Regions from separate parts of the Homo sapiens genome. Here region 1 is linked to region 2. Evidence: fine-mapped expression QTL. Tissue or cell type: whole blood. Region 2 holds a variant in brackets; the other region holds the start of a gene. All regions are shown on one strand. Distances are from middle to middle.

Region 1 (16,911 bases), 51 kb after region 2:
TATGGCAGTATCCTGTATCTTTGTCACATGTCCCCATCATTTTGTAAGCATTTCCTTAGTTTCTTGCACAACAAAATATCTCAGGCACATCTTTACTTGACTTGTTCCACCCGTCCTAAAATCAGGCATTTCTCTAGAGATTCCCATTCTTTTTACTGGAGAATGATATTTAAAAACCGAATTTTGAGCACGAGGTAAGTTAATTGGTTCTGTGGTGTCATTCCTTTTAAGCCCTCTCAGCAGGTATGGCTAGTAAATAAACGTATGTATACACACATGCATCTGTATCAACTTCTTTATCTGTTTACACATATGTGTGTGTACATACATATATCTATACACACTCACATATATATATGCATATACTCTTACACACACACACATATGAAACCTGAAGCTCATATTAATGTCTAATCCAATCCAATGCTATGAGGTTCATTGTAGCCTTTTTCCTTATTTGTAAACCCTTTCTCAGACAACAAGAAACCTAAAACAGCTGTGCTATTTACAGGCATCTTTCATAGCACTGAAACAAGCTTTTTATTTATTTTTTACCTCCACTCCCAAGATAAGTGTTAACTTTAATTCAAGTATTGATCTTTTGAATGTCCAAGTGACATTCAGTCCCAGCTATCCCCATTATATCAAATAATTATAAAATTCTCTAACTGTATTTGGAAGCAGTTGGTTAAAATTCCAATGATAGTGTAACTAGTCACATGTTAATGTAATTCCCATATGTTAATATTATTAAAGTTTCATATTAGAAATCCATTATTTGCCATAAAGGTGAAATGATGAAATTTATTTGCAAAAGTTATCTTTTGCCTATGTTCCTAGTGAAATTCGGATGACTGCAATTCAAGCAAAAGTCAGATCTGAAGTTAGCTGCAGGCCAGCTCAGAAGTGTACCTTAGTGACATTTAGGCAGTACTTTAAGCCTTAACTCTAAGATTTTTAACCTAAATTTTTTTATTACTGTTATTCTCTTGGAACACGTCTGGTTTACTGCTAAGGAAATTCTACAGAAGCTGCTTCTATTATATTTGTATGGAAGCACAGAGCAAACTTGAAACTTGTACTCTTAACCAGCGTTTCACCTTTCACCTCTGCGTGTAATCCTATCCATACATAAAGTGAAACCGATGACTTACACAGTCACAAGCTACTAGTCACATGACGTCTTACATCTGGGGGCAAATCTGGATTTACTATCTGAAAGATTAAATAGAGCCTAAAGGGGAATTTTGTCTATCATTTATAAAACTCCTCCACCAAAATGCACACTCGCATAAGCAGTTATACTTACTGCCCCTTTTTTTTTTTTCGTCTTTTTACAGCAAAGCTGGCAAGTAGAGCAAATCACCCAATAGGCATACAGAGCAGACAGAGGGCATGAGTGTCCAGAAGAACACGCCTGTAATCCTAGTGCTTTGGGAGGCTGAGGCAGGCAGATCACTCCAGCTCAGGAGTTTGAGTCCAGCCTGGGCAACACGGCAAAATTCTGTCTCTACTAAAAATGCAAAAAGTAGCTGGGCATGGTGGCACATGCCTGTGGTCCTAGCTTCTTGGGAGAATGAGGTGACTTCTCTATAAGAAGGCTTTCTTTCTGTGATTTTCTCCTTCGTGTCAGATTAAGTGCTCACATAGCACTCCTGGGCTTCATCTTTCTTCTATCACTATGTTTTATTTATGAAAGGAAATTTTAAGATGCTATATTTATTCAAACAATTAGCCTCTAGCTTAGGAGTGTACATTTCTGCCTGCAGTAGACAGTCTTTTTTTTCCCAGTGACTCCATCATTGCGCAATATTTTTGGAGCGGTCTCCTTTTGTGCAGTCTCTCATTGCTTCGCTTTTATCCCGCAGATCATCATTGGCATCAAGTAGTTTTTCACTCTAAGGGTAAGTTTCTAGTAGAGCTAAACCTAATCTGATTAGTAAATATCCAGAATGAGGTGGGTGATTTGGAGGAACAATCATACATACATACATATATAAAAACACCCGTAAACACACACAAGAAATCCACAGAACATAAACTAAAAGCTAGAACTGTGTTATGATTTCAACAAATTTATGGTATAATGTTTATCTGTCATCACAGAATTTTTCAAACATTTCATCATTCTTACATAAATCTGATTGTCACTAACCCCCTTATGTGAAAGTTCCAATGCACGTAACCCCCCCCCCAAACATTTTATATATGTATAATTTTCACCTTTTTTCTATATCTAGACTATTAAGATTTTTTTTTTTTTGAGATGGGGTCTCACTTTGTCACCCAGGCTGGAGTGCAGTGGCATGATCTCGGCTCACTGCAACCTCTGCCTCCCAGACTCAAGTGATCCTCCTGCCTTAGCCTCCCGAGAAGCTAGGACCACAGGCATGCACCACCATGCTCAGCTACTTTGTGTATTTTTGGCAGAGACAGGGTTTCGCCACGTTGCCCAGGCTGGTCTCGAACTCCCAGTTCAAGCGATCTGCCCGATCCATCTGCCTCGGCCTCCCAGACTGCTAGGATTACAGGCATGAGCCACCGTGCCTGGTCACTAGACTGTTAAGATTTTTGAAAGTCAACTGAGTGTTTTATTTTTTCCTTCAGAAAATATTTTATTCAGCTTTCCATAATAGACAAAAGAAAAAATTCTCACTCTACTGTTTATGAAGCATACCACAAATGTTGATACTTTCTGGCTGTTTCAAATCTTTCGTACACAGTTAACCTAAAACTCTTCAAACATCATCTGAATAAATCTCCTCTCTGATCTTTTCACATGGTCCTGCATGTGACACACATCTTCACCAGAGGCATCTTCCTATTCACTTAGCCTTTTGTAAAAACCAAAAATTCTCGTGCTTGACAATACCCCCAACCACTCTAGTTGCATGAGAAGTACCTCAGTTAAAAACTCAAACTCACAGAAAATGTCATTTGCTTTTTGCCCTAAATAATTCTTTTTGTTTTGATGGAAAATCTGCCCTTCTATTAGCCATTAGCCAATTTGGAAAGCAGTCCTGTTGTGGACTGAAAGAAGCTATAACACATCCATGCTACACTTCTCATTTTCCAGACTTTCAAACACCACTCACATAAATATATCTAAATACTTTACATTTACAGCTCAGAATTATGAGCTAGAAAGCAAAAGATGCATAAGCAAAGCAGATCTCACCTTTGCAGAGGTTTCAAACCATCCGGCAAAGCCATGTTCTTTGCAGAATTGGTCCACCTGGGAAGGACTCTGGCTACTGTCCTTGTTCTGGTCACATTTGTTAGCCAAGAGGACAGCAGGGATAGGGCTGCCATTTGGAAGATGAACTTTACTATCCAGATCACTTTTCCATTTTAAGACTGCCTCAAATGTGGAACTTCTTGATATATCAAAGACTACAAAAGCACCAACAGCTTCCTTGTAGTATACTCGGGTCATGTTGCCAAATCGCTCCTGCCCTAGACATAAATATAAGAAAAAATTAAAAACTTGTAATTCAGACAGAGTCTACATTTAGGTATAACCCCTTTTACCCCAAGAGCAACACTATGAACAAATGTCTTCCATTCCACAGCAATATAACCTGGTGTGATTAAGGCTATCCATACAGACCATGACCCATAGAGCAGATGTGTCTGATAATTTGGTTTAAGTACATAATGAATTAGTTTTATGTTCTGTACAACATATTCTCCATAAAAACCAATATGACAATATTTAAAGCTACAAAGTCTGTCATTTATTCCGACTCGTCTCCCCTTAGTCTAAGAGAAGAGAGGCACTAAAGGAAAACATAAAGCTGGAAGTAGAGGAAGAAGAGACAAGAATAGAAGAAATGAAGCCTGCAGGAAGGAGATAAGTGCAGTGGGTAACATGCTAGTCAAATAGATTAGGGCTGGACATGAGATAAAGTAGTTCATGTTCTCAACTCATCTCTCCTTCATATCTCTAGCCCATACCCACTTCTGACTCAATATGCAAGATTTCACCCCTGTAAGTAGTAGATACATGAAAATCTGTTTCAGAACAAAAGGCACAACTGGTTGTGTTGTTACAAGAAGAATCAATTCCAGGGTTCTTCAAATGTCATTGTACTTTTAAAATAATTTATGTCAAACACTTTGGGAAAAATCTGCTTTGTACATTATATAGGACTTTGCAAAGCGTTCTCTTACTATCTGCTATTGTACTAATCTTTGGCATAGGAAAGACCCTTCTTTTCATCTGACAGATGTAACAACAGGAAAATGGATGCTTGGCCAGGATTATAGTGGCACTGACTAAAGAAGACAGGACTAGAATCCAGGTCTTCTGACTCCCACACACCTATAGAAGTGGGATGCTAGCCTTTCTGAACTATCTTGCAGTTGCCTTGACTTAGTTACTGACTACAGTGTGAAGGAAAAATGATTGGCAATCAATGCACATCTAAGATGTATCACTCTGTTCTATGATAAAGACACTTTCTTCTTGAAACACATGAGCAACAGGCTTTATCTACATTTTATTGACACATTTTCTCTGCACAGATGCAAAGATACCCCAAAATATAAAATTCTTCCTTCTCCAAACTCTACAATGCAATATAATTTTATATATTGTTTTAGGGAATAATGGAAGAAGAATAAAACAATGGTCAAACGTGAATGCATAAATTTAAGGTTTGTTTTGTGATGACTCCTCATATGGTTTAACTGAAGCTGTACTGTAATAGTCCAAAGGTCTAAATTTTACTGTAACAAATGGTCACATATGAAACCCTACTATTATGCTCATATTTTATTGTGATGTAAATCTGACCATTATATAGTTCATTGGCTCATAATGCTGACATTTATAAAAACTTACATGATATGCCAACTGTTCAAAATCGCTATTCTGCAGAAAGACTATATGCATTGAAATGATTCAGACTCCAATTTCAAATGCAGTGCACACATTACCAACCACTTCCATTTTTATATATTTTAATTATTGAATATGAAAAGACTAAGCAACAAGATATGACAGTCTTAAATTAGGAAATTGAAAAAGTAAGATTTCAAGATAATTACATGGTAATAAACTATTCCTTTGGACTATATCTTTAATTTAGAAAAGAGAGTGGGGTGACAAATGAGTAAAAGAACAGTTAGAAACCTAGAAGTTAACAAAGAGTTGTTAAACTTTAGTGACTGTTGCTTTTTTTTTTTTTTTTTTGTGAATCATCTGTAAATTTCAAGTATTTCCTTTTACTCGTGCTCATGAAAGATGATAGGAGAGTTGTGAAAAAAAAGACAAAGGGATATTACTAGGTATACTAATCGACAAAGTATAAGATGCAGCAAGGCAATCAGGATCCACATTCTATTTTGGATGGGAATCAAAACAATGTAAAATAAGTTTAGGCATAAATTATATAGTTTATATCTTCCAAGCACACATTTTATGCTTGGGTAAATATTATTTATATGAACTTCAGAGCAGACTGTTCCCAATTTGTCCTTTGGCCCAAAGGAGAGTTACTCATTCAGATTTTTATTAAAAAATGTTGATCCTAAAAAGCAAATCACTCAGTCAATACATGAAGGCTAAAGTATACTAGACCTAAATGGACAAACTTGTTTTTTTAAGATTTAACCTAGACCAGTCTTTCAATTTGCCTGAAAAATGCTATAGTGACTAATAAGCAATAAGCATATAATAGTAAACCAAATACTACTTTACCTACACTGAGCATTAAAAGGAAGATCAGAGACATCTCTTGCTATATCTTGAGTATGCATTTATTAAGATCTCTGTAAAGTGTTATCAAAGACTTCAAGATTTTAGTATATTTCAGTTATGTTTTGAGCAGCAGTCCTAAAGTACGTGTGAGTTAAGAGATGGCAATTGTCTAACACAAAAACTGCACTAAACTGCATCTGTATTTTAAAGCCAGATTCCTTCAATGCCGTAAGAACAGATTTGTGTATCTGAGGATCACAGTGGTTCTTAACCTGAAGAGTTCAGCTGAATCTGCTTAGCTACATGTGTAGAAAACATTTGATAATTCTAGCCTATCATACTTGCCACAGCTTTCAAGCATAGAGATTCGTCATAATTTCTTCACTACCTCGCCCTCTCACTGAAGCAACCAAAAAAAAAAAAAAAAAAAAAACCTAACTAGTAAAAACACCACACCTTAACTTAGTTATGGCAAGTAGCTGGCTCTATCTACTATTGTGCAATCAAAGAATATTTCTATTATTTGAGAATTAAATATGATCCAACTTTGTTACTACATAAGGCAAGTATGCTTAGCCCTGGGGGAAGTTTGTGGAGCAGCCATCAGTTTGCCTTCATTACATCATCATTACTTAATTCAAATGGTATGAGCTGAGATTCACTAGTAGCTCAAATATTCAAATCAAACAGTTAGTAATGTAGCTCTCCAAACTTTAGGCTAAGGATTTTTTGTTTTGTTTTGCTTTTTTTGGTCTCTAAAACAGTTTTTTTTGTTTTTTTTTTGTTTTTGGTCTCTCACTAAGCTATTTTTCTCCCTCATATTCAGAGATATTAAAATTCTATCTCTGAAAATCTTACTTATAATGTGAGCCTAATAATTTCTATAAATTTACCTCTAATTTTGTAAATTGCTGGTCTGTACTTGCTGTATGGGACAACAATACCTGTTGAAACAATATCTAACATCCAGAAATCCCTTTTGGAGATCTTAAACTTTTGTTTTCCTTCCTGGCAAAACTCAAGCTTTGGATTTAGTGAAAAGTACAAGGATATCCCATCTAGGCAGATGTTTATCAGAGTCTGATAAAAAACTAGATATGACCCCTTCCTGTCATTCGAGGTCTGTGATTAATAAAAAAAGAAGAGGTGATACCAGAAAGAAAATTTGTATCTTACTCCTGCTTTTACTTTCTCAAGTTTCTAACTATAAACACTTAAAAATCTAGTTACTCATACTGATTTACCAGCAGTGGGACCCAATCGTAGTTTAATAACAAAATGCCATAATTTACATAAAGAGTAAGGCAAGGTCAATCACCCTTGTAAGCAAGGTTTTAAAACCATCTTTGTGAAAAACCTCAGCTATGCTGCAGATTCCTGGAGAATGACCGTCACATGGTAAGGCAACCTTTAGAATCCATGACTTTGTCAAGAAGCAGAAATACTGCTCATTAGGGTTCTGTGCAACGGCAGGAAGTGTTTCGAAAAAACTTCTGGCTTCAAAGATGACTTTTCAAACGAACTTTTGGTTTTTGGTAACAAAAAACAACAACAAAAAGCTGAGTCCCTGGCTGATTACTCCTTTTTTCTGAGCAACTGAGTTGCATACAGTTATTCTCCTGTCTGAGGGACAGAAATGTGCTCTTAAATGAATGAGTTATAGGTTACAATTATTTACTACTCTTTCTTATGTAACAAGCTATAAATGACAAGAGCACTACCTGGCAGACAGACAGTAGACCTGTGATCCCCCCAACCACTCTGCTACCAGCCAGGTAGCTATACCCTCCATGGGCTTCAGTGTAGGGACTGTAGAATGAAGGGTGGCCTCAGGTGTCCTCTAACCCTAAACCAGCTCCCATTCTAATGCTGTACTGCAGACTGTGCTTCTTAACACCTGTAATGATTGAACAGAGTAATTTTCGTACTTTTTTTTTTTTTTTCTGAGATAGGGTCTCACTCTGTTGACCAGGCTGGAGTACAGCAGTGAGAACACAGCTCACTGAAGCCTTGACCTCTCCTAGGGTCAAGTGATCCTCCTGCCTCAGGCTCCTGAGTAGCTGGGACTACAGGCACGCACGACCACACTTGTCTAATTTTTTGTATGTATGTATGTATATATGTATGTATGTATTTTGTAGAGACAGGGTCTCACTAACAGCCCAGGCTGGTCTCGAACTCCTGTGCTCATGCGATCCTCCAGTCTAGGCCTTCCAAAGTGCTGGGATTACAGGCGTGAGCCACTGGCACTTGGCTTGGTACCATTTCTATGAACTTTCCAATAGTTAACATCATCTTTAAAACGCCCACTCCCAACCACCACACCAGGCAAAGTTCAAGTGTTCATAAATCAGAGCAGAGGGAAATGTACCCCCTCAAACAGAACAAATGAAAGCAAATGGCAGAGAAACACTGTATTGAGGAGTGGGGGGGGGGCGGGGGGGGGCGAGGGCACCAGGGATGGGACTAGGTGTTGGTTTAGCAAGAGAGGAAGGGGTGAGTGTAAGGTTTCAGAAAAGCTTTCCCAAATCTTCACGGAGTGTCTGTCCTCGGCTTCCGATGAGAGCAAAGTATTTGAGGAATGGAGTTTCCCTCACAAAGGCCAGTCTCAGAGCCAAGGCGGGTGGTGGAAAATGATCTGGAAAGGAACCTGGCTTTTGGTCTTGGTGGTGTCACTAACTAGGAGTGCAGCTTCGGGTTAAGTCACCCAATCCCTCTGAACTTGAGTTGAGGCTGAGAGGCGCCGGCCCGCTCCAAAGCAGCCTTCTCAACTAGTCCTGGTGTATGTATGATATACTTGCATTATTCAGAGTTCAAACTTCTGGAAAAGGCCCCCTGGCCTCCTCGCCTCCCTTCAGGAGAGCGAGCTCTGGCGTGCAGGACCTGCTCCAACTCCTACTGCCCATCCCATCCTCTGGGCCCCACCGAGTCCAGCCGACCGCGTCCATCGCATCTCGCCCTTGGATTGGGCCTCTCTCTTCTCCTAAAGGTACCCAGGCAGACGAGTTCAGGCAGAAAAGAAAAAGAAAAGAAGCAGAGAGGAGCCAGGCGGCCCGGCGGGGCTCTGGAGTGGGAAACTCGCGGCCGCGCTTACCCGCGATGTCCCACAGCTGCAGGCGCACCAGAGTCCTGCTGTCCCAGTTGAGGACCTTGAGGGCGAAGTCCACCCCGATGGTGGCCCGGTAGTGCTGGGAGAAGAGCTGGTGGACGTAGCGCTTGATGATGCTGGTCTTGCCCACGCCAAGCTCGCCGATCACCAGCACCTTGAAGAGGTGCTCGCGGGTCTCGGGCGCTGGGGCGGCGGCCGCCCCCAGGCCGGGGTCCCCGGCTCCTCCGCCCGCCATGAGCGCTGCGGCTGTCGGGCGCGCCTCGACTCCGAGTCTGGCCCCCTGCCCGGCCTCGCGCTCTGCCGCCGCGCCCCCGGCGGCCGCGGAAACTCCCCCGAGGCCGGCCAGCCCTCCGCCGCGCCCGCTGACGCCGCCTGACCGGTCACAGGACCCAGAACCCGCCAGTGCTCGCGGCCCGGGCGGGGCCAGACGAGGGCAGGGCCGGACGAGGGCAGGGCCTGGCGCCGGCTTGGGGAGGACCCTGCGCGAGGCGGCTCCCGCCCTGCGCCTCTGAAGCCCGGCCGGGCCCAACTGGACTTCCTCTCCCGGGCGGCGCCTCCGAAGCCCGGCCGGGCCCAGCTGGACTTCCTCTCCCGGGCGGCGCCTCCTGGCGGTCGCGGCGCGGAGGGAGGCCCAGACGCCCGCTGGTGGGCCTCCGGGGAGCCGGCCTGGAGCCTTTATGGGCCCCGGAGGTTCACTGGGGGCCTGAGGAGGCGCCGAGGTCGCTGAGCCCCCCCCGGGGCCGGGGTCGGCGTGGGGTCCGGGCCCAGCCTGGAAGCCTCTGGCCTGGAAATCCACCTCCTGCCCTACTCTCCCCGCAGGGAGAGCCACACTTGCGGGCCTTGGCTTGGGTCGCGAGCAGTCCCCTTTAGATGGGAAAGGAAGTGGCACCGTGACTTTGAACTTAACGAAGGACGGATAACACTGGGCTGGTAGTTCTGTTTTTAACTTTTTGAGTGAACCTCCGTAGGGTTTTCCATAATGGCTGTTCCAGTCCGCATTCCCACCACCAGTGTACAAGGTTCCCTTTGCTCCGCACATCACCGACACTTATTATCGCTTATCTTTTTTATAACAGTCATCCTAGCAGGTGTGAGGAGATACCTAGTGGCTTTTCCCTGTTCATTAGTGATTTTGAGCGCCTTTTCTTATACCTGTTGGCAATTTGTACTTCCTCTGGAAAAAAAAAAAAAGTCCATTCACATCCTTTGCCCGTTAGTTAACTGGGTGTTTTATTTATTTATTTTGGCTGAGTTCTGTGAACGTAATGTATTTTGGATATTAACCCCTTATCAGATATATGGCTCACAAATATTTTCTCCCAATCTATAGGCTGTTTTTTCATTTTGTTGATTATTTCCTATGCGGTGCAGAAGCATTTTAGTTGGATGAAGTCCCATTTATCTAGGTTTGCTTTGGTTGCCTGGGCTTTTGGTGTGATATTGCAAAAATCGTTGCTAAAGCCAGTGACCCAGCTATCCCTCTTCTGGGTGTATACTCAAAGGAAATGAAATCAGGATCTCAGAAATCGCTCTCAAGTTCATGCAGCATTATTCACAGTTGCGAAGATTTGGAAACAACCAAAGTGTCTGTTAACGATGAATGGATAAAGAAATTGTAATACATACATAGGCATGCACGCGCGCATATACACAGACGCACACACACACACAATGGAATATCATTCAGCCTTTAGAAGGCGATCCTGACATTTGCAACAACATGGATAAACCTGGAGGACATTATGCTAAGCGAAATAAGCCAGACACAAAAAGAAAGATACTGTGCAATATCACTTATATGTGGAATCTTAAACACACACACACACACACACACACACACGGAATACGTGGAAACAGTGGTGGTTACCAGGGGCAGGGAAGAAACGGAATGATGCAGGTCAAAGTGTACAAAGTTGCAGTTATATAGGATGAATGAGTCCTAATGATCTAATGTAGCATGAGCGTTATAGTTAATAATATTGTATTTTAAACTGGAAATTTGCTAAGAGAGTAGACTGTAAGTGCTGTTACCATTAAAAAAAAATTGCAGCCAGGTGTGGTGGCACCCACCTGTAGTCCCAGCTACCCAGAAGACTGAGGTGGGACGACTACCTGAGCCTGGGAGGTCCAGGCTTCAGTGAGCTTAATCGCACCACTGTATTCCACCTGGGCGACAGAGTGAGACCATCTCAAAAAAAAAAAAAAAAAAAAAGAAAAGAAAAAATGAAAAGAAAAAATTGTGTAACTATGTGAGATGATGGACATGTTAATTTGTTAATTTGCTTAACTCTAGTAACTATTTCACTATGTATATCAAAGCATCATGCCGTATACCTTAGATATAGATATATATATATATACACACACACACAACAAAATAGTCTATTAAAAACCTTATCATGCTTTAGCATTTAAATTATGGAAGGAGTTTGAGAAAGAAGACACAGGGACTCTGAAGCCATCTTACTTTACTTCCCTAACAATCCTTTTTCAACCTTCATCTGGTAGTGTTTGGATTAGATGTAAATGCTCTAAGATAAATCATAGGAAATTGATTGGAAAGTAGTAGACTTGTGGGTTTTTATTTTAAAGAAGAAACATGGGGGACAGCCCCTTGCTTTCTCTATCTATAAAGTTGAGGGATGCACCCCATCACCTTAATATTTAGAAACACCTGGAGCTGACATCATCTGGCAGCTTCCTTAAATAAACTAAAGCAGCTGCTTACCCTACTATCCTCACTCTAATTGACAATTATTGAAAAGTGTTTTTCAGAGATGGAGGCGTTTTAAAATTTAGAAGTCAAGGTGGGAGTAAAACCTTTTTCTAGAATAGCTATTGAAAAACCACAGATGTGGAAGTACAGCCAACCAGTACATGGCTTTTATGTTCACCCAATTAGAGAGCCCTTCCAAACCCATGTACAGTTTGGGAAAAAAAGGAAATCCTCCAATTTTTGGACAAAGTGCAGCATTTTGTTCCGTACGTATGTAATACCATAGATGTTTTTTTTTATTCGTCCTTCTCTAGCCCTGCTGAATTTCCACTGACTTTAGAGGTAGAATTGTGGTGGTGCTTAAAATTAGAAAAGGTCACTGCTAAAGGCAGGATAAAGTTGTGGATCAACGATTCAAAGACAGGATAAGAGTTTAGATGAGTGGTTTTCAAACTTGAGAGTTCTGGGTTTGTTAAAACAGAGGGGTTCTGATTCAGATCTAGGGTGAGGCAAATAATTTGCATTTCTAACAAGTTCCCAGGAGATGTTGCTGCTAAGTGTCTAGGAGCACAGTGGTTTGGATCAGAATTTGCTTCTCGAACTTAAAAGTTCTTATGTATCTAGTAATACATACCACTTTTTTTTAAATCCATTTATCCTTCCGTAGATATTGAGATTGCTTCCACACTTTGACTATTGTCAATTGTGCTGTATTGAACATTTGGGTGCTAATATCTCTTCAAGATTCTGATTTTCATTCTTTTGGAGAAATACCTGGAAGTGGGATTGCTGGATCATATGGTGGTTCCATTTTTAATTTTTTGAGAAATCTCCATATTATTTTCTATAGTGGCTGCACCATTTTGCATTCTCATCACCAGTATACAAGCGTTCAATTTTCTCTGCATCTCTACCAACACTTGTTGTCTTTTAAAAAATATAATAGCCATCCTTATATAATGGAATATTATTCCACCTTAAAAATAAGGAATTTCCACAATATGCAACAACATGGATGAACCTCAAAGACGTTATGCCGAGTGAAATAAGCCAGTCACAATAGGAAGAATTCTGCATGAATCCACTTATATAAGGTATCTAAAATAGCCAAACTCAGAAAATCAGGAAGGAGAATGGTGGTTTTCAGGGTCTGGAGTCAGGGAGAAAAGGGAAATTGCTAATTTCAATTATGCAAGATGAATAAGTTCTAGAGATCTGCTGCACCACATTGTGCCTACAGTTAACAATAGTCTTGCACACTTAAACATTTAAGAAAGTAAATTTTATGTTGTGTTCTTACTACAATACAATTATTAAAGTTCACATAAATTATGTAGGATCTTAGAAAAGTTTAAATTCTGATTCAGCATATCTGGGATGGAACCTGAAATTCAAAATTTCTAACAAGTTTCTAGGTGATGTCAATGCTGTTGGTAGACCACACTTTTGTTAGCAAGGTGTGATGGTTAATATTTAATGTCAACTTGATTGGATTGAAGGATGCAAAGTATTGTTCATGGGTGTGTCTGTGAGGGTGTTGCCAAAGGAGATTAACACTTGTGTCAGTGGACTGGGAGAGGAAGACCCACCCTCAACCTTGGTGGGCACCATCTATTCAGCTGCCAGTGTGGCTAGAATTAAAGCAGGCAGAGGAATGTGGACGGACTAGTCTTCCAGTGTTCATCTTTCTCCTGTGCTGGATACTTCCTGCCCTTGAACATCAGACTCCAAGTTCTTCAGCTTTTGGACTCTTGGACTTACACCAGTGGTTTGCCAGGGGCTCTTAGGCCTTCAGCCACAGATTGGCAGCTGCACTGTTGGCTTCCCTACTTTTGAGGTTCAAGGACTCAGACTGGCTTCCTTGTTCTTCATCTTGCAGATGGCCTACTGTGGGACTTCACCTTGTGATCTTGTGAATGAATACTCCTTAATAAACTCCCCTTTATATATACATCTATCCTATTAGTCCTGTCCCTCTAGAGAACCCTGACTAATACACACGGGTTCAGATTAGAATTCAGTAGTTCCCACATTTGCTGTGTATCTGACTTACCTAGGGAGCTAGCTAGTTAATTAGCCCCGACCTTCTGTTTTAATGTTTTAGAAGGGGATCCCAGGAATCTGTATTAAAACACAAACAAACCTAGATAAGCATGATGCACACACTAAAGAAACCAGACATACATAATACCAAGTACTGTAAGTAAGTGTTGGACAATATCTGCGTGTACAGCCCTGAACTGGAGAAGGTTGGGGGAGAATGGATAAGTGTTAGAATCCTGAACTGACATTTTAGAGGAAAACAAGTTTTCTTTCCACACATGAAATAAAGAGAACATAATACAGGTAATCTGAGACTTGTCACTGAATAAATACGACTGCCTTTATTTTAAACAGACATTTCCATTTACTACATAAAAAAATAGCCCACTCAGAAAGTCACCCTGTGATGTTCCCCTACACATTTATTATGTTTCAGCATTTGCTATGCCTTTTATCTAGAATGTTCCAAACCATTACCCCATCCCAGGCTCTCAAATAAACTGTCCTCATCCTTCCTGCGCTAGATCAAAGGATTATGTTATTTTCACTCCTCATTTTCCTGGCAGATTTGTATATTCATTTATTTATTCAAAAGCTTATAATTATACCTTGAAATATTTTAGATATTTTAGCTACAATGTTTAGCAGCATAGATAAATTCTTGTTCTCAGGGACTTTATATTGTAGTGGGAACAGGAAAAATAATTTAAAAGCAATCAAATAAATGAGATAATTTGAGATAGTTATACGGTTCATGAAAAATAAAATAGGAAAATGGTATTTAACGATAATCGTTGAATGATAAATATAAACCACACTAACCAGCAGGCCTACCCCAAAGGAAATACGAAAAGCAAACGTCAGGTTTCATTTGGTTCCCAGAGGGACAACTGATTGACTCAGGACTATTGACTCAGGACGATTCACTGAAAAGCCCATCTTTTTTCTATTCCTCCAACGTGCCACCTTTGTCGTAATTCAAGTAGTCCTGTAAGAATGGATCTGTTTCTGCTGTCTCTTGCCTTCATTAGTCTGTGGTCTTTACTTGTACCAATTCTTATTTAGTGATTGTAACTATGGTATAAGTCTTTTCTGGTAAATCAAATTCTCTCATTCTGTAATTCTTCAAGTTTCCCTTAACCATTCTGGTTCCTTTATATTTCGATACAATTTTAGTCTCAGCATCTCAATTTTCAGAAACACACCTGCTGGGACTTTTGTTGTCATTACATTGAATCTATAGATCACTTTGAGAAGAATTGGAAATTATACAACATCAAGTCTTCAAAAATATTGACATGGTATATCTATCATTTATGTAGGTCTTATTATATTTCAATAATTTTGAGACGTCTTAAAATTTCTGTAGCTGGTATGTAAAATTAAAATTAAATTAATTTGTGTATAATGAATTGATTCAATGACGCTGATAATTCTAAAGGTTTATTTATAGAATTACATTTTCTATGTATACATTATTTTAAAAAAAACTTTTCTATCCTTATTTTATTCCTTTCTCATAACTTATTTCACTGGCTAGGGCTACTAATATAATTTTGAATAAAAATGGAGACACTGGAGATGCTAGTTTTAGAGGTAAAAATTTCAACATATCACCATTAATTTATTTTAATCAAATTATCATTTTAAAATTGTGTTAGGTTTACAGAAAAGTTGCAAGGATAGTACAGAGAGTTCCTATGTACTTAACATCTAGTTTCCCCTGTTGTTGACATCTTAAATTAGTATGGAAAATTTGTTATAATTAATGAACTGATATTTATACCATTAACGAAAGTCTATGCTTTATTCAGATTTCCTTAGTTTTGATCTACTGACCTTTTACTGTTCCAGTGTCCCATTCAGGATAATCATTACTCTTAGCCAACATGTCTCCTTAGGTTCTTTTTGGTTGCAGCAGTTCTCAGAGTACAGGCTAGGTATTCTGTAGAATGTGCCTCAGTGGGGATGATCCGATGCTTTCCTCCAAATTATACTAGAACTTCGAGGTTTGGGGAGAAAGACCACACAGGTAAAGTGCCATTCTCCATGAATTACATGAAAGGTACATGCCATCAATATGACTTGTCATTATTGATGTTAATCTTGATTGCTTGACTAAGGTAATGTTTGTCAGATTTCTGCACTGTAAAGTCACTTGTTTTCCCCTTTTCCATATTGTTTTCTTTAGAATACTGTCCGCAGCCAATATTTAAGTAGCTGGGTTAATACTCTCTCTCTATGAAAGATAATCTCTCACAAGATGTTTTGAATTCTGCATAGTAGATTTAGATCTCCTCCCCTATTCATTTATATATCCAAACATTTACTGATGCTAGTATGAACTCATTGATACTTCTTTTCTGCTTCAGCTTACACCCCAATATAACTTTATTTTGTTGCTCATATTGTTCCAGCTTTCGCCATTGGAAGCTCTTTCAGTTGGCTCCAATGTCTCTTTGATATTTTCCTGTCACTGTGGGTTTTGTGGGTTTTATATTTGAGTTTTTTCTCACTTTCTGGCACTACAAGATGCTGCAAGATCATTATTTCATGCCACAGACCCAAATTGGTCATTTGTGCAACAAGTCTGGCATCCTTTCATTGGAGAATGGAATAAAAAACTGATATCTTTGAGCTAGGTGTGTTCACTGGTACTGTCCCGTTGCTCAAGACCATCTCAGCTGAAAGAACAAGGAAGTATGTGTGTGTACTAACTCATGTATACGTGCATATTTATAAATTTTTCTGTATGTATCTAAGAGTATTTATTTTAAGCTAAACATGAGTTCATACTCTTGTCTCCCATTCTGATCAATGATCACATGGATCCTTCTGGCATTCCCCACCTGTTTATGTGTAACCTGTCACTCCAACAGTGAGAAACCTGGCTTCTGTCATCAGCCAGCTGTTTACTTAATTGTGCAATTCCAATGTACAGGTATAGTAATTTCAGAATTATTGACCCATATCCCTGTGGGAAACAAGTTTATCAACTAGAATACAGAGCTTATGTAAGGTTCCTTTTATCTTCAGTATTATAGACTCTACTTATTTCTAAATATACTAACCAATTATCTTTTCTCCATCCTCTTTAGCAAGATTATTTCATACATTTGTAATACAGTTGTTTTTTAAAAAAATCATAGCCTGCATCTCATCCTAGGATCCTCTTATCTCCTAAATGTTTGTTTAATTTGCAAACATTAAGCTCCACTCTTCATGCTGTAAAGTTCTATGGTTTTCAGAAATGTAGAGAATCATGTATCTGCCAGTATGTATCATACCCAACAGTTTCACCACTCTAAAAAATCCTGTGTGCTTCATCTATTTACTACT
Region 2 (11,684 bases):
GCGCATGGGGGAGGGGTGTACTCAAAATTCTTTTGCAATCCTTTAATATCTCCTAGTTAAGAGAGTCATTCATTCATTCACTAAACACTTTTGAGTGCCTACTATGTATGATCTTGGAACTATCTAAGTACTAAGAATTCAACAGTATGTAAAATAGAAAAGGAAAATCCCTGCCTTCCCTATTGGGAAGACAAATGAAAAAAAAAAATGTAGTTTTTAAAAAGTGAAATATATAGCATGTTAAATGAGCAAAAAAATAAAAGTCAATAAAAAAATAAAACAGTGAAGGAAGACAGGGAGCTTTGTTTTGTTTTGTTTTATTTTGGCAGAGAAGTAGAGGTTGTAACTTTAAATCAGGTGGCCAAAGAAGCTAACAGGAGAAAATGACATTTAGGTAAACTCCTGAAGGAAGGGAGAGGGAAAACCATATGGATATTTGAGCAGAAAAGCTTTCCAATAGGGGAAACAGCAAGTGCAAAGGCCCTGCGGTGGGAACAATCCTGAGATGACTCAGGGAGTGGAGAGAAGGCTAGTGGAAGGTAACTTTAGAGAAGTAATACAGGCCTGATTCTGAAGGGCGTCCTCGGCCTTGGACCTAGAGGAATGGAAGCCATTAGACAACGCTGAAAAGACCTGACTTTGGTACACAGAAGTAAAGCAATCCTATTAAAATTACATATGTAATATTTATATAAAATTATATATGTAATATTACTTATATATGTAATATCTAAAATTTAAGCTAGTAAAAGGAATGGATTATCTGCCGGGTAACTGGAAACCTGCTTATGAGAGAGGTTAGAACTAAGGGACTAGAGATTCACAGACATGGGAATGAGTCTGGGAGAAGAATTCACAAAGAAAAAGAGTTTAAATCCTAGGGATCAGTGAATCATAGGGATCAGTCCAATGTGGAATTCTTCAGCCAGGGAAGGAAATGGAGAAACAGGCATCAAGGATGTAAGAATTCAATTTGAAATGATTGATTGCATCGCCCTCCCCATCAGGCAGAGCATGAAGAACATGAATGATCCCACTGAAGCAGGGCGGGCAGCTGGGATTCTCTCACAGTGGGAATGAACATTAGAAATGGTGTAAGTTCAAACAGCCCCAATCCTATGCTGTGGATAACTGGATATCCCTAGGGAAACAGACCACAGAAAATAATAATCATGGGGAAGTACATCCTAAGACACAACACCTAACACCAGCCCAGGACAAAGGCACCATAAAAATTCCATGAGCGAGGGTCTGTTTACTTTCTCAGAGTAAATGTTAGTAACATGAACTATACATTTATAATGTTTTAAGGTTTAGAAGCCACTTTACGTCTGACTATATCTGATTAAAGATCGTAGTCGTTGGACTGGGCAGATGCAAACTAGAAAATCACCATTAAGGTGAAATGTGTCCATGTCTGTCTGTCACTCGCTGTCTGTATCATTTCCGGGGCCATGAAGATGTGGCTTTAACCAGAAGTATTTGAGATATGCCTCTTTCTTAGGAAAGCTATGGCCTTTCTAACTGCCTGAGAGGGCTATGAAGAAGAGGAGGGGTGGCAGATTCACCCATGGGAGCTGAACACCCAAAGCAAGAAAATCAGGGGCTCTGGGAAAGGAAGTGAGTCAAGACAAGCAAGAGAGAAGGATGAGAGCGAGCACCTCCAGGATCTGGTTTACCAGAGAAGACAAGCTGCGAGGAGGCCACTAAACTTCTGCCCTGGCACAGTTTGCTGCAGGGAGGCAGCCCCAGAACTAGTGGTGAGGTCGAGGGGCTAGGCCAGGGGAGGGACGGACAGGCAGAGGTCCCTTACTCTTTCGATTTATCCGATCCGTGCGCCGAGTTGATACGATGCACCTCTTTCTTTTTGGTTTGTTTGGAGGCCATGGCAGAAGCCGATCTATGTAGGGCTGAGCTCTGAGCAAAGAGCCTGCGGGCGCGCTCGGCTCCGCGTCTGCGTTGCCAGGAGACGGCGTCCCGCGTCCAGCGCCCGGAGAGCGGGGGCGGGGCCCTGGGGGCGGGCTCTGCGGCCTGTGGCTGCAGAGGGACGCAAGAGCATAAACTGAAATCCCACATCCCCGTGGAGGAACTTGGAGTTGGTGTCTGGGGAGAAATCGAGGTTCTGGGGCACGGGTTTGGCATTAGGATTACTGGGCAGCCCTGATTAATTGGAGTTCTGCAGGACCTACACTGCCTGGCTTTGCCCTTCGGAACCATAGACATATATCGACTCTTGAATATCCAACTATTTGAACGTAGATGTTATCCTAGTACCACCCCAGTTATTCTCTTGGCTAAATATAACAAGTACCTTCAATAATTACTAAGGAGACATTACAGACACGCTGAAATTGTCAATGGCTTGAAAACCTGGGGTCCAGAAATTAACACAGTGGGTGTAAGGAAGGCAAAATAATGACACCTTGAGTCGCTGAGGGCTAGGTGATGATATCTGTAATAAAACCAATAAGGTGTCTTGTTGTTCGAATGAAAGAGTGAGTCCAAGTCATGGGCTCAGGTGGTCCTTTGCAGACTTTCCAGAAAAGGTCCAGGGGCCAGATGACACAGACAGAACCAAGTAAAATGAAACTTATTAGGGCGCAGGCTTAAGGCTCAGTCATCAGTGGTGATTTGTTAGTTATCTTGCCTTGGGCTAGTTTTTCCCTTTGAGTCTCAGTTTACTCACTTATAAATAGGAGATGCCTATTACTCACTTATAAATAGGAGTTATACCTAACTCACAGTTCTGTTTTGAGGATAAGATGCAAAGCGCAGCAAATAGGAGCCACTCTTTCAGAGATGACAGACCACCTGGTTTCGAGGAGCAGCAGACAGCGTGAATGAATGAAGTTGGCCAGGTAAATACAGAGTAGTGGATACTATGCTTAACTGAGACATGCTTAGACTGCAAGAGCTTGCAAATTTATCAAAACAAAACAAAATATTGTGTTGGTTCAATATAACCTCACTTCAGAGATATCTGACACACAGCCCTTAGGCCTAGGACCACTACTACTGGTTGGTGTCTTTCATGAGCCTAGAAATAGTTAAGTATCTTTAAATAAAAGAAATCCCCTCCACTCATGGGACTGGGCACATGCTCACAGTTCCACCTGTGCAGGCAAGAGGCAGCTTCCTGCAGAGAAAATCTTTCAACTTCTCTGACAAATGAATGCTCAGGGCTCTCCACTCAGCATAGCCTATGGTTTGTCAGACTATCCCAATCTTATTACTATTGGATTACTACTGGGGGTTACCTAGATGACAGACAGCCCCTTCGTTGTATTTCTATATGCAAAATAAATAAATTCCAAGTCAGCAGTGTTAATATTATGACTACAAGACTGCCCTGCAAACATCTCCTATATATGTAAAGACAATGAACACATCATGAAGATTCTGCTTTGTTTATACCATAATTCAAATTTCCAGAGAACTCTCTTGAATGAAAGTAGAGGACTAAATGGTGAGAAAAATTATTTACTACCAAATTTTGTCAGAGTAATCAAATTTATAGCTATAAGTATATACAAAGACTCTTGGCTGAAAACAGCACAACTTTAAGCAGCCAACCCCACAGAGAGGTGAGTTTCTTCTTGAACAAGGGCTATCCTGCAGCCATTGTTAATGGCTGCAAGATGCCAAAAGAATTAGGGAAGATAAGCCTTAGAAATCAAAAGATCTACATCCCACCGGTATTTTATGGACAAATAACTCCAGGCGAAGACAAGCAAAATGTCTTGCCAAAAGTTGCTGGGTTATTTATTGATGGAATTTGGACTAAACACATTAAAGTCAGCATTGCCAGTTTAAGCCAAACATATCACTACTCCACTCAGAGCTTGCTTTTTAAACATCTATTAAATTAGGATAAAGTAAGGGGGTTGTCACCAGAATGGAATAAGATAATCATAAAAGATGTGACGAGTATAAGTTGCCTATTAATTCCTACGCCAGTGTTCTTTCTCCTTTATTATATTAAGAGTGCAACATGCATAAATGGAATTTCTCTTCTTTCTGGAGCTAAGGTTCTGGTCAGGCTGTAATTATAAGAGCAAATCTGTTCCTCTCTAAGATAGTTCTAGCTACAAAGCTTAACATGATATTTATTGTGGCAGTGCAAAAAAGACAATAGGTCCTACTGCTGTTTTTATTTTTCTTATAACTGTTGTCAATGTCACTTTGGAATAATAATAATAATAGCTGTGATTTATTGAGTACCTACTACATGCAAGGTTTAGGGAAGGGTGCTAACTCCTTTAGAGATAAACTTGAATTTAAATCCTGACTCTTGTTGGGTAATTATGGGTGAGTTATTTAACTTCCATTTTCTTTATTTGTGGAAAGGGAAGAATAATACCTCAAATATGCTTGACTCATCCCAAGCATTCAGAGAATTATAGCTAATGTTATTATTCCACAGGTAAAGAACTGAAATGCAGACAGGAAATGGGACTTGCCTGACATGGAGCAGGTGGTAGGTGGCAGAGGAAGATTGGCCACTCCATAACCTGTGCTCTCTCCAATTCTCTGGACTAACTGTCCATACAGATGATTGCCCTGGGACTGAGCTTAGGGATTTCCAAACTCTTGCTATTTAACAACTGTCAAAGACTGAGAAACAGGGCTTATATTTTATTCAAGCTACCCAGAATAGGGCCTCTCTCTAATCTATACTTCCTTTTCGGGGAAGAGATATTTGGCTTCAGGCAGCAGTAGCGCCTGCTCCCTAGGGAAGTGGTTAGAGGTACCCACTTCCCCATATCAGCAGAAACAAAACAGGCAGGAGTCTCTCTGCTTGAGGATCTGCCTAA[A/G]TAGGGAAGTGAGAATTGGCAACCACTTCTCCCTCCACCAATGGGAATCCTAGATGGAGGGAACTGGGTGGGAGATGGCAGGGGTGGGCAGAGTGGCAGCATTTCTGTTTCTTAAATCCATAACTCCATCTTCAGACACTTGATTCCACAGCCATAGGGAATTGTATATATTTTGCTGCTCAGCTACCTCTTTGCAATTAGGTCAATTATAAAATTACTTGGAATTTAACCAGCCAAATGAGAAAGTATGCATTCTACATGTTCTGTGTAAGGTTGAATTTAACTGTCACTTCAAGTTCTGTTCTTTTCACATTTCCATGGAAATTTACACCCTTCTCCTTTATTTCCCACAGAACTTTATTTGTTCATCTTTTAAAATTCCTATAATATTCTGTCTTGTTTTTATTAATACTTATGCCTTGTTTTTTCTCCTTTACTAGACTGTAGGGTCACTCAAAGCAAAAACTCCTCTTCTACCAAATTCATTCACACTTTTGAAGCTCCTAAACCCTTAATAATAAGAGCTTACATTTGTTGAGCACTTGCTATGTGCTTGACCCTCTTCTAAGCTATTTTTCTGTATTAATTCACTTAATCCTTACAAACACCCTAGGGATTTGCTATTATAATCTCTCTTTTATAAATAGGAACATAGGCAAAGAGTGGCTAAATTAAGTTAGTAAGTGATCAGGCATGATTCAAACTCATGGCTCTAGACCCATGCTCTTTATAACCACATTATTCTGCCTCTGACACCTTCAGTGATCACAACCCTATGAAGTATGAAACTCTGCCCATTTTATAGCGAAGAAAATGAGCTTTAGAAAGGCAAAGCAACTTGCCCAAAGTCCAAAGCACAGGGGGAATGGAGTCAAAATGCATAGGTGAACACTTTGGTTTCAGAGTGCAGGCTCCTAAACTCTCTGCTACATACACACTGCCTACTTCAGAGTTCAAAACATATTTACTTCAGATCATTGGAAATGGTATTAAAAATCACAACTGACATTCAGTTGTGTCCAGTAATATTCAGTCTCTACACCTGTTAAGGAGAAGTTGGATCCTGCAGATATGAAACCTGCTGGCCCTGCCACAGAAAGCCCCGTTATTCTGGGAAAAATTGAATTTATAGTTTTAATGACCTGTGAAAGGAAATTCTGAATAGAGGTTCTTTAAAAAATGGGGGATATGGAAATAAGTTATTAGTTGAAAAACAATTTCCATTTTGATAAGCTGCTTCAAGAAGAAGCAATGACTAACTGTAACTAAATGCTTCATCAGGATGCAAACAAACCTATTTTGTACAATGCTGCAATTATCTGTGCAGCAGATGGGTGGTTCTGTTTCCCCTTCTGGACAGAGACACTCACCCTTTGTTGTATACTTGCACTGAGAGCTACATGTGTCCCACTAGTTTATGTAAGAAGGGGATATAAATGGGGCAACTCTGAAAGGTGCTTCTCTCTCCAGAACTTCCCTTATGACCCATGAAGGCTTCTGTTACAACTGCGTTGCAGTTTAACTTCTCCTTCTCCCCAATCCTGCTTCCCCTACAGATGTTATTGAGAATACTCACTAATAAACCTCATGCATGCAAATCTCAGAGCACCAGAGCCTGGTTCCTGGGAACTAGCTTGGAACAGTGTTAGTAATAGGGATGATCCTAGGAAGCAGACTCTAAAATGGGATTTGGGAAGACTTCCACTTCCAAGCAAGATGAAGTAACAGAGAATTTACCTTCTCTCATGAAATAATTAATAAACTAAAGAAAATATATGAGGATATTGACTGTCAGACAATAAAAGAGAGTGATACCTGGGAGATGGAAACCAAAAAAACTGAGCCTTTTAATTGTCCCATCTTACTGCTAGGTTGTGGCACAGAAAAGGGGAACCTAGGCAGAGCCTGATGGTGGCCCTGATTGGGAGAGACAGAGCTGAGGTCCAGGGAGACTGGGCAGCCAGCGTTCACAGAATGGAGTGCCAGAAAGTAGAAGTTGCACAGACAGAGTATGGAGAGGACAGAACTGCACAGAGGAGAGATCTTCAGAGAGGAGGACTCAGTATTCATGACCGCTTATCTGTTCCTTCATGTGAGGAAATTCCCTGAGGCCAGGGGAAAAAACCACCTAACAAGTTTAGAAGGAGCGACCTTCTTTGAGCTTACGGTAGGCTGGGAATGGTGCCTATTACCATCTGCCTGATTGGAAAAAAACTCATAATTCACAGGGTATGGACTGGAATACAAAGAGAGTTTTGCCCTTGAGAGTGAACAATTCATTCTAGACGAAATGCTCCACTAGTCTCAACCAACACATCTGAAAAGCAGGATCTGAAAATATCAAACTATTTCCAAATAACAGCATCACAGAAAAAAATCTTAAGAATATTTTTTAGGAATACAAAAATATCCGAGTAAACAAGAATTTTACCTTGTTTACTTACCAACAAAGTAAAATTCTCAATAACTAATATCCAATAAAAATTAACAGGTCTGAAAGAATAAGAAAAATATGTCTCATTAAAAGAAAAATATCAACTAATTGAAGGTAACTCAGAAAAAAATAAGAGAATTATTAGAGAGGACATTAAAACAGTTATTAAAACTGAACTCCATATGTTCAAGAACTAAAAGAAAGAATATGATAAGTTCATTTTAGGAACTTCTAAAAATGCAAAGTACAATGTCTACATTGAAAATACACTGTGGCCGGGCGCGGTGGCTCACACCTGTAATCCCAGCACTTTGGGAAGCCAAGGTGGTTGGATCATCTGAGGTCAGGAGTTCGAGACCAGCCTAGTCAACATGGTGAAACCCCGTCTCTACTAAAAAAAAAAAAAAAATAGCTGGGCATGGTGGCAGGTGCCTGTAATCTCAGCTACGCAGGAGGCTGAGGCACGAGAATCAAGTGAACCTGAGAGGCGGAGGTTGCAGTGAGCTGAGATCGTGCCATCGCACTCCACTCCAGCCTGGGGGACAAGAGCGAGACTTTGTCTCCAAAAAGAAAAAAAAGAAAAGAAAAGAAAAGAAAAATACACAGTATGAAACTAACAACAGATTACACATTGCAGAAAAACAGATTAGCCAATTTGAAGACACATCAATAGCGATTGTCCCAAGTGAAATATAGAGAAAAAAACTGTTGAACAAATGAATAGAGCATTTGGATACTGTGGAACAACTTCAAATTGTCTAATAAAGATTAGCTGGAGTCCCTGAACGGTGAGGGCTGGGGTCAGAGATGGCACAGTGAATACAGAAAAAAATTACATGAAAAAATGATGGAAATTTTCCAAATTGCATAAAAACTATAAATCCATAGATCAAAAAAACTTAATGAACTTCAAGCAGAATAAACATGATAAAACTACACCAGGGGCATCACAACCAAATGGATTAAAGCCACAGTTAAAGCAAACATTGTAAAATGGGTCAGCTTTGGAGCTGACCAACAGGTAATGAGTTCCTCATTAGTGCAGGATTGCAGTGCAACTGTTAAACTTTGACCTGTGGTAAATTACAACAAGATAATAGTAGAAGAGAATGCACCAACAGATACAATATCTCAGGCCTTTGAGAGGTTTTGAGAAATAGTAATTATAAGGATTAAGAAACTGGATGGCTGTTGCCACTCTAAAAATAAGAGATATAGTTATAATAACCGATTTCTTGTTCTTGTCTATTAACTAACATCTATGTCATTTCTGGGTCAGGTTCAGTTGAATTATCTTTCCTCCTAATAGGACATGTTTTCCTCATTTGCTCTATTTTTTATTAGCTACAGGACATGTTGAATTCTACCTTCTTGGATGCTTGTACCATCTGTTACAGCTATTAATTTTTCTTTAATGTAATTGTGTTTATCTGGATGTTTAGTTTATCTGGAGGTTAATTTTATGCCTTGTGTATTTCTAAAAAGATGACTAAGATTTGGTTTTTATCCCCAAAGAACTCATAATCTTGTGGGTTATGAACCTACAAGGAACTAGGACTGATATTTACAAAATGACACAATGAATTCCATAGAATAGCTGTTAATCCTGATGAAGGACATCGAAGGGGTCATACAGCACATTGTGACTGGAAAGAAATCTCTAGCTGAGATTAGACACATGGGCATAAGCACAAGACAGATGCATGGTGAGAGGGTGGGAGTGACATTTCAGATCTGGATCATGAAGCAGTCCTGGGTGACTTGCTGCAGCAAGAAGTTCTAGATAGTGAAAGGTGATGTTTTGAAGGTTTCAGCACAAGTACAAGAGCAGATGAAAGAACACTAGACAAACTTCTCCATTTTTGCACTTATGCAATATGTCACCAAGTTAATTTAGAAGATTCTATTTAGGCAGTGTACAGGTAGATTCTAATTGTAGCATTGAGTTTACTGGCATTTAGACTTGGGTTTCAACTTAGCTCTATTATTTGTAAGATGTATGATAACAGGCAAGCTATTTAGACTCTCTGACCTTGATTTTACTCATCTAAAAAATGGTTATAAACTTCATTCCTCATCTGATTATTGTGACAATTGAGATGCATATTTTAAACAAAAATGAAACAACATAAGACAACGCAATCATTCTTATATGAGAAACCATTACGTAGTCTATATGAAGGTTCAAAAATAGCTTGGCATAAACCGAAGTTGCAAAGAAGAGACTAACAGAATTTTGTATTGAGATGATCTATAAAGATTTCAAATAATTCCAAAAACTTTTAAAAGGATAGAAAATTAATTTGAAGTATAATTTTAAAACATGAGAATTATAAAGAAAAAATAGAGCTTCATGATTATCATAAGGTATACTAGTCTCCCCAAAGAATCTTCATCTTATATACCTTGTGAAGGTTGTTAGATGCCATTCTGTCTTTTGACTTAATTGCTAGTAATTCTTTACATTTATGAAGCTTATTCAATTTTCCACATATTTAAATATCATATCTCACACATGCTATTTATACAAAAAAGTAACATTTAAAAATATATTCTAGTGTTTAAAAATGCAGACAAATTTAATTAGGAGCATGGAGCAGAAGAAAAGTTAGATTTTTTTATTATAAAAGTGTTGATTTTGGAAATATGCAAGTATAAGCACAAGTAAAAAAAATCTCTAATCCTAACTTCCAGAAATAACCACTGACAATATTTTGATGTTACAGAGGCTTCCCATTATGTACGCAATTATTTTATAAATTGAGTATTTGACTTTTTTCACTTAACTATTGTTGTTAACATTTACTAAGGTCACTTAATTGTTTTCTACATGATAAAAATTTTAATAGCTGTGTAGTAAGCCTCACATGGATGTACTTAGCCATTGCCCTCTTACTGGACTTTTAGGTTATTCCTGTATTTAACTAATGTGATTGGAAATACAGTACAGGACAGATGAACAGGAATGGGGAAGTGGAGGCCTGGACTGGCTTTGCATGAGTCATTTCATCTTTCCAAGTTCTAGTTTCCTTACTTAGAAAATTGTCAGGTAAGCTGGGTATGGTGGCTCATGCCTGTAATTCCAGCACTTTGGGAGCTGAAGCAGGAGGATCACTTGAGCCCAAGAGGCGGAGGCTCCAGTGAGCTATGGTTGCAACATGGCACTCCAGCCTGGCAACAGAGCCAGGCCTTGTCTCAAAAAAGAAAAAAAAAAAGAATGGTCAGATGAACTAGATGATGTTCCAGATCCTCATTAGTGCTAGTATAGACACCAGCACTTCCAGAATTAAAGAATACTTTGGTGAGGAATGTCTTGAGTAGGGCATCACTATGGGAAACTGAACAATTTGAGGGTAGTGTAAGGACATATGTATGGTGGGCTTTTCGCCGAATTAAAACAGCAAGAAGTGAGCAGTGGCAGAAGCCTGGGAAACAAAGTAGAAAGGCATCAAAGTATCTCTGATTCTGCCAATCCTTTCCCCTCTAAAAAGGGGAATGCTAAAAAGGATTGACATCCAACCTTGTCATCCCTCTTGACACGAGGCATGTGTTGCTCTCTCAGAGAATGATGCTTTCAAATGTGATTAGGCATTTTACACTGTTTGCATTTGAGCATATTGTCAGCTTCATAACCAAGTTTAAAACACAGTTTTATAATATGCATTAATTTAAAGGCAACTAATTTAAGATAAGTTTGCTTTATCAAGGAGTCGAAAAGATGGAGCTAAAGTTAAAGGCTATAAGAGGAAGAAGAGCATTGGATAATGAAAGCTTCATCTAATAAACAGACTTATCCATTCTTTGATTTAACACAAACTTATTGAACATCTGCTATGTTCAAAGTCCAATTCTAGGGTCTGGAAGGGTTCAAAACAGACAAAATCCTAGTTCTTGTGAACTTACATTCTAGTACAGGGAGAAAGATAATAAACACATAATATGCATGTTGTTATACTATGTCAAAAGTGGGTAAATACTAAATAGGAAAGGGAAATAGGGTAGAGAAAATAGGAAATGGAAAAATTGAGGAGGAAATTGCTATTAATTGCATCAAGGGCATAGGAATGGCCACTCTAATAATGGGACATTTGAAGAAAGATTTGAAGTAAGATTTGAAGTGGGAAAGAGACCAAGCCACCCATACCTCTGAAGGTAAGACCATTCTGGGCAAGGCCAGTAGCAAGTGAAATTTTGAGATAGGAGGGTACATGATGTATACTATGCCTTCATGAAAAGAACAAACAGAGCATGGGGAAAAGTAGTAAAAGATGAATTTAGAGAGGCAGCAGGATGGCAGATCCTATACACCCCTATCAGGAACATGGCCTTTATCCTGAATCAGATGATAGCAATTAGAAAATTTGGGGCAAAGAAGTGACATGATCTAACTTAGGCTTTAAAATGATCTTTCTGGATGATTTGTTGAAAATAGACAT

What was found. PIP is the estimated chance that this variant, and not a neighbour inherited with it, causes the effect.
Region 1: it holds the start of RAB32, and the variant in region 2 is fine-mapped to the expression of RAB32 in whole blood (TOPMed, PIP 0.99).

Annotation. Positions count from the first base shown.
Region 1 is chr6:146,536,009-146,552,919 of GRCh38, reverse strand. RAB32 (RAB32, member RAS oncogene family) reads right to left here and starts at 9,087. Exons shown (of 3, transcript NM_006834.5): 1 at 8,799-9,087; 2 at 3,179-3,456. The coding sequence starts at 9,048. RefSeq lists a silencer at 9,134-9,513.
Region 2 is chr6:146,589,244-146,600,927 of GRCh38, reverse strand. ADGB (androglobin) reads right to left here and starts at 1,956. Exons shown (of 36, transcript NM_024694.4): 1 at 1,814-1,956. The coding sequence starts at 1,887. ADGB-DT (ADGB divergent transcript) reads left to right here and starts at 1,997. Exons shown (of 3, transcript NR_125860.1): 1 at 1,997-2,095; 2 at 2,757-2,858; 3 at 4,424-6,412. RefSeq lists a silencer at 1,861-2,155. The variant A/G (reference allele first, on the strand shown) is at 4,815.